Linked DNA regions of Homo sapiens. The protein of the gene in region 2 purifies or fractionates together with the protein of the main gene of each other region. This does not show direct contact. Each region holds a gene or a part of one and is shown on either strand. Other genes may lie near its edges.

Region 1 (3,537 bases), on a different chromosome or scaffold from region 2:
AAAACTTTATTTATGGAATGGGAAGTTGCAATTCCTAACCTCAGTCTTTTCCTTTGAAGCTTAAACATACTTCCTCTTAAAGAAGCAACAGGGAATGTATTCTTTAAATAAATGATTTTTAGAACTTTTACATTCTTTTCCTGGCTGTCACTTTATTCTGTACTAGGTTAAAAATTCCTAGCACCTTTAGTTTTTTGTTATAGATCTTATTTATCATCTTTGTATGTGTAATATTGTCCTCAGTGACTACTTCAGTTCTTTTTATAGATGTTTTACATAGATATTTCCATAAGATGTCTTAAATCTGGACTTAGAAAAACATCAGAATAATAGTTGATCTTTCCTGTGTAGCATATACCTTGTACTTGTACATATACCTTGATTTTTAAAAATGGTCAGACTGTATTGCCAGCCATCAGTTAGTATGACTTTCCTATCTTTCACAGACAGTTATTTCTTATTAGATAGATTGTTATGTTTCATAGGGTCATGAAATATTAGAATGGGATTAATAATAGCAAATTAAAATCCAACTTTGAGATATGGCATGGGAGAATGTTATGGACCATGCTAATTCGAGATGGAATTATGCCTTCATTTTCAGGAATTTTTCAAAATGAAAGGATTGAATTAAAGTAAATTTGTCTTAGATGAATCAAAACAAGAGAGGGTGACATGTCATTTTTTTCTACTAATTCAGAACATTTATGGAGCCCCTAATATGTGTCAGGGACAATGCAAATATAACAAATACAACAAATACATAAAATGAGGAGCTGATGAAGTAAGGAGCTGCTGGTCGGTGGGACGTGTACAGCCCATTAAGGAAGCTCTCAGGCTGTTCCCAACTCTGTGCTTTGATGATCTTTCTAAGGTTGCTGCAGCCTCATTAAGGAAGTCACAACCTTTCTCTGTTTCTTATGTCCTTTGGATTGGTATTTTTTTTTCCCCTCAAATACTATTGTGTTACAATGGATTGTTATTCTTGAAACAGCATATCTGAAAAAGATTTTTCTAACTCACAGTAAGAAGGATATTGCAGAGTTAATATTGAGGTACATTGTGCTATATTTTGTGTTTTCTCAAATCATATGGAGCTTTACAGGATTAGAATTCAAATAATCAGCAAGGGCACCAGAGCTTCTTCAAACCTTACATGATAGTTGTTGAAAATGGATCTTCTTGTATTCTCTCCCTTTTTGGGGGCTCCGAGTCATAGTTAGGGCATTCATGGATATATGAAGTTTTTTTGTTCAGGATGGTTTTCAGGGAATAGTTCTGTTGAGATCCAACTTTTTGTCTTTGCGGAGGCTTCCTTTATAACAGTTTTGTCAGTGCTTCTTAAACTTTAATATGCATATGAATCACTTGGGAGATCTTGTTAGCATCAAGATTCTGATTCAGTAGGTATTCTATGGGAAATTACCTTGATACAATGGTTGAGCTACAAGTACACCAGCAGGCAAGCTATCTCAGAGGTTATGGAATAGAAGACTCAGAAAACAAATTAAAATGCTTGAATCACATGATTTACCAAACCAGTTAAACACAAATCCAGAAGCAAGAGGAAAGCTATGGAGTAAGTTAACACACTTCAGGTTCAAACCAGGTTGGAAGGACCACGCTACCTGTCCTGGATAAACAATGTTCCTATGTCCCATCTTTCTTTCACATAACCCTTCCCCATTAATGATGTGGTTATGAGGACCAGAGCTGATGTTTGAGCCAAGACTCCATAGACTAATGATTTCCTGGGTCGATGATACACACTTGTTCTGTTGAAGAGATGTGACAAATACACTTAGGTACAGCCGTAGCTTTGCTAGTTTGCCTGCTGATGAGCCATGGGACCATCCTTGGTGTCTTCAGTAGATGACTGATATGGAAGTAATGTAGCTATCAGTCCAGGCATAATGGTGACTTGGTATTTCCACTGCTTTTTGTCTATAAGTAAATCTCATTCATTTTATCATAATTTCTATTTATTTTATTGTTGTCATGTCTTACTCCCAGCTTACCTATTTATTACGCATCTGCTGACTGCCTTCATTTCACCAGCTTGCATTCTCATTATCAATACTTGGCCCAGCCTGAGTGTTGCCTCTGTCTCATAAGTTGTTAGTTTATTTACCATCTATGATTATCACTTCTTAAGTGTTTCATCCATCCCATTAGTTTTGTTTACCTCTATAATAGAATTTCATATTCTGAAATAATACAGGAAAACCACGTTAACAGTATGTCTGGAGGGGAACCTTAGATTTTACATTTCTAACAAGCTCTCAAGTGGTGCCGATGCCGCTGATCAAGAGATCACTCTTTGGAATATGAATTTGAAGTACAATCTTCTGGCTTCTGAAAGTGGCTGGCCATAGCATGTTAGGGAAGCAACATGTAATAAATTTCCTTTCCAGATGGGCTGCTATATCTGGTTGGGTGGAATAATATTCTCTGAAGATGAAATAAGGTATAATCTTGTAAAGTGCATGAATACTCTGTTTCTGGATCCCAAAGTGGATTATTATCCTTAACTCAAGGCATTTGGGTCATTAAAAAGTCACATCCTAGGCTCTTTGTGTGGTTTAAGTTTTTAGTTATAAAAAGTTGGGAGGAAGAAGTTTTTAATGGAATCAGAAATTTCATTTCTTTCATTCTTTTGCAAGTGTAAATTAATAAACTTAGTATAAGAATGGTCATATGATTTAACTTGCTTTTCTTGGATAACTTTGATGGTACAACTTTTTTTTTGTTTGTTTTTTGTTTTTTGTTTTTTGAGAGGGAGCTTTGCTCTGTCACCCAGGTTGGAGTGCAGTGGCACGATCTCAGCTCACTGAAACCTCCACCTCCTGGGTTCAAGAGATTCTCAGGCCTCAGCCCTCTGAGTAGCTGGGACAACAGGCATGCACAACTATTCCAGACTAATTTTTATATTTTTAGTAGAGACAGGGTTTTTACCATGTTGGCCAGGCTAGTCTCGAACTCCTGACCTCAAGTGATCTGACCGCGTTGGCCTCCCAAAGTGCTGAGATTATAGGCGTGAACCACTGTGCCCAGCCGATGGTATAACATTTAAATTGGATTTCCTTTTAAATTTTTATGTTTTATGACCTATGCTTCATAACCAGGTAAATGAAATATGTCAAATATTTTAATATACTTTGTAAAATCAAATAATGAAGATTTGTTGAATGAACCCCTTTTCTAAAATCCAGAGGTATAGCTATACTTTTAAACTGAACAGTGATCATTTAGTGTTTAAAAAGGGATTCTTTTGACAGCAGATTATTTCAGATGTTTACTGGTATTTATTTGTAATAGAAATATTTAAAGTTTCTTGTTTTTTGTTAATTTAATTAATTTTTTTTGAGACAAGGTCTTGCTCTGTCACCCTGGCTGTAGTGCAGTGATGCAGTCATGGCTCACTGCAGCCCTGACCTCTGGGGCACAAGTAATTCTCCTGCCTCAGCCTCCCATGCAGCTAGGACTACAGGCAAGCGCCACCATGCCTGTTATTATTTTTTTTTTTTTTGTAGAGAT
Region 2 (3,537 bases):
AACCTCCGCCTCCCAGGTTCAAGTGATTCTCCTGCCTCAGCCTCCCGAGTAGCTGGGACTACAGGCATGTGCCACCATGCCCGGCTAATTTTTGTATTTTTAGTAGAGATGGGGTTTCACCATGTAGGCCAGGCTGGTCTCGAACTCCTGACCTCAGGTGATCCACCCGCCTCGGCCTCCCAAAGTGCTGGGATTACAGGCGTGAGCCACCGTGCCCGGCCACCTGACTTGTTTATCACTCTAACAACAGCCCCTAGAACAGCACCTGTCATACAGTGGCACTCGGTAGATATTGCTGAATGCACAAATGAACCCCCAGAATATTTTCTGTGTGCCTTCCTTAGGGCCCTTTATACTTTCAGAATTATAGCATAGGAATGTGCTCTAATTTTTTTAAACAAAAATGTTTTAATAAACCACCGTCTGCTTTTTTTAATTTGTATTTATTTATTTTTTTGAGACAGTACCTTACTCTGTCACCCAGGCTGGAGTGCAATGATGAGATCTCAGCTCATTGCAGCCTCGACATCCTGGGATCAAGTGATTCTCCTGCCTCAGCTCCCCAAGTAGCTGGGACTACAGATGTATGCCACCATGCTCAGCTAATTTTTGTATTTTTTTTTGTAGAGACAGGGTTTCACCATGTTGCTTAGGCTGGTCTCAAACTCAGGTGGGCGCAAGTGATCCGCCCACCTCAGTCTCTCAAAGTGCTGGGATTACAGGCATGTGCTTTGATTTTATAAAGAGACGCCACTAATATTTCCCCTTTTTAGGGTAGGTAATACATTCACATAGTCTAAAAATTTATTTATTCATTCATTTTTATTTTATTTTTACTTTTCTGAGACAGGGTCTTGCTCTGTTGCCCAGGCTGGCATGCAGTGGCACCATCATAGCTCACTGCAGCCTCAACCTCCTGGGCTCAAGTCATCCTCCCACCTCGGCCTCCCAAATATCTGGACTATCGGTGTGCGCCACCACACTTAGCCAATTTTTTTTTTTTTTTGTATTTTTTGTAGAGAAGGGGTCTCCCTGTGTTGCCCAGGCTGGTCTCAAACTCCTGGGCCCAAGTGATACTCTGGCCTTGGCTTCCTAAAATGCTGAGATTATAGGCATGAGCCACTATACCTGGCCCTAAAAATTAAAACATAAAAAGGTATACAGTAAAAAGTGTCACCCCATCCCTGATTACTCTGTATCACAATCAGTTTCTTCTATCTCCTCCCAGGATTTCTTCCTAGTTTTACTTAAATACTCATTTTAAAATTCACATCTTTTAACACTAGAAAAGTAACAAATTGAGCTAGTTTCACCAATGACTACTGTAGAACATTGCATTCTTTTATTTTATCTGCACAAGACCACAATGAGACAAGCATTGCTTGCCTGTGTTTTACAGAAGAAGAAACGGAGGTTCAGAGATATATAAGGAACTGCCCCAAGGTTGCAAAGCCAAGGGTGACAAAGCTGGAGTCAGAACTGTTCTTTCTGGGGTCTCTAGTCCATGCTCAAGTGGTCTACTCATCCCAAAAGGTCTCTTTGGGACATAAGGGGCAGGAACAAGGTCATCATGGGTCGGGGTTCAGTCTGGGATTTGAGGTCCTGAGATCAGGCTGAGTTCAGTCCCCTATTAATCTATAAGATCACCATAGGCAACCATTTCTCTTTCTATCCCCAGTGGCCAGCTGGCACACAGTTGATGCTCAATTTATAATTGTTGAATAATAAATGAACAAATGCTGCATGAACAAATGCATTGACAGACAGGTGGATGGATCAGCCTGTGACCAGCAACATCAGTGGCTAAGAAAATTCCTCCCTCCATTGCCCCTCTCCTCCCTACTGTGGGAAGCTAATTAGTTCTTGAGGAATCTGACCCTGCCCTCCCCTCCCTTGCCCTCATTAGCACTGGCCATGGCATGCTGAGTCTGTCTCCAGGGACAGTCTTTCCAGGCATCTTGCCAGCGAGGCTCTGAATTCATGGACTCTCAGAGCTGGAAGAATTCTGACAGAGGAGGTATTTCATCACCACCCTGTTTTATAGGTGGGAAACAGAGATCCAGAGAGTAGCCCAGGGTAGAGCCGGGTGACCCCACATGGGACCCGCAGGGAGGCCCACACAGAGCAAAGAAGCTGTGACCAGCAGCGTCACAGCAGCTCCACTGGGGCAGCCACAGGTTTTCTGGCCCCAACCTCCTTCTTCCCTCCTCCATCGAACCTGGTTTTCCCCTAACCTATTAGAAACAGTGAAAGCACACAGCCTATCCCACCCACCCATGATATTACTCCCCCCGAGTAGGACTCTTCTCCTGCCTGGATCACCCTATCTATTAAAGATGTCTATTAGCCATCTATTAGCCAGGCTGCTCCCCTGGGAGGAGCCTAAGGGATGGGGTGCCAGCCACACTGGAGGGCTCTGAGAGGTTGCTCAGCTCATGCTGTGTCTGTCTCCCCTGCTCTGCTTAGAAACCAGGCCTCCTGGCCTGAATCCAAGCTCTGCCATTTGCTAGCCGTGTGACCTTGGCAAGTTACTGTACCTCTCAGAGCCACAGTCTCCTTAACTTGACATGAGTGTTGGGAGGCCACAAAGAGATCATGAAAATGCCAAGGCCTGACTGCCATGAAGCCCAGGTGGACAGACAGAGGGCTCATGCTATCCTGGCATAAGCTGGCAATTGGTCACCCCATTCCACTCCCTGGAAAAGGTCAGATACTCTTCTAGCACAGGGGATTGACTGAAGGTCAAATAGCAGGAGATTCCAGAGCTACACGGAGGCAGAGCTTACTGCCCCAAAACACAGAACCTCGGAATCTCAGAGGTGGCTGTCACCAAGTCCAATTCCCACACAATTCTTGCATCTTCAAAACAACATGCTGAGTGTGCAAGTCTCTGCTGACATACTCAGGTGACGAGCTCACTCCCCCGGGAGGTGTCTTCCACTAATTAACATTCCTCAGCTAGAAAGTTCCTCCTTACATTCACTTCCAATCACTTTTTTTTTTTTTTTTTTCTGAGACAGGGTCTTGCTCTGTCGCTGGAGGGCAGTGGCACCATCATGGTTCACTGTAGCCTCAACCTTCCAGGATCAAGTAATCCTCCCACCTCAGCCTCCTGAGTAACTGGGACTATAGGCATATGCCACTATGCCTGGCTAATTTTTGTATTTTTTGTAGAGACAGGATTTCACTATGTTGCCCAGGCTGATCTTGAACTCCTGAGCTCAAGTGATCCACCCACCTCAGCCTCCCAAAGTGCTGGGATTACAGGCGTGAGCCACCACGTCCAGCCATCATCCGCTTTCTTGATGTGGTTCTGCCTCCCCAGGCTGCACAGAGAAAAAGTCTTCTCAGCCGGGCGCGGTGGCTCGCGCCTGTAATCCTAGCATTTTGGGGGGCCAAGGCAGGTGGATCACGAGGTCAGGAGTTCGAGACCAGCCTGGCCAATATGGTGAAACCCCATCTCTACTAAAAATACAAAAATTAGCCAAGCGTGGTGGCGGGCGCCTGTAATCCCAGCTACTTGGGAGGCTGAGGCAA

What was found. The genes of interacting proteins can lie anywhere in the genome.
Region 1: the proteins of SYNPO (region 2) and PPP1R9A purify together in Homo sapiens (affinity purification with mass spectrometry; one large-scale study listed by BioGRID and IntAct). This does not show direct contact.

The regions. Positions count from the first base shown.
Region 1 is NC_000007.14:94,914,060-94,917,596, forward strand, and holds part of PPP1R9A (neurabin-1), read left to right. Parts: intron 1-3,537. UniProt on the Homo sapiens protein: Binds to actin filaments (F-actin) and shows cross-linking activity. Binds along the sides of the F-actin. May be involved in neurite formation. Inhibits protein phosphatase 1-alpha activity.
Region 2 is NC_000005.10:150,643,645-150,647,181, reverse strand, and holds part of SYNPO (synaptopodin), read right to left. Parts: intron 1-3,537. UniProt on the Homo sapiens protein: Actin-associated protein that may play a role in modulating actin-based shape and motility of dendritic spines and renal podocyte foot processes.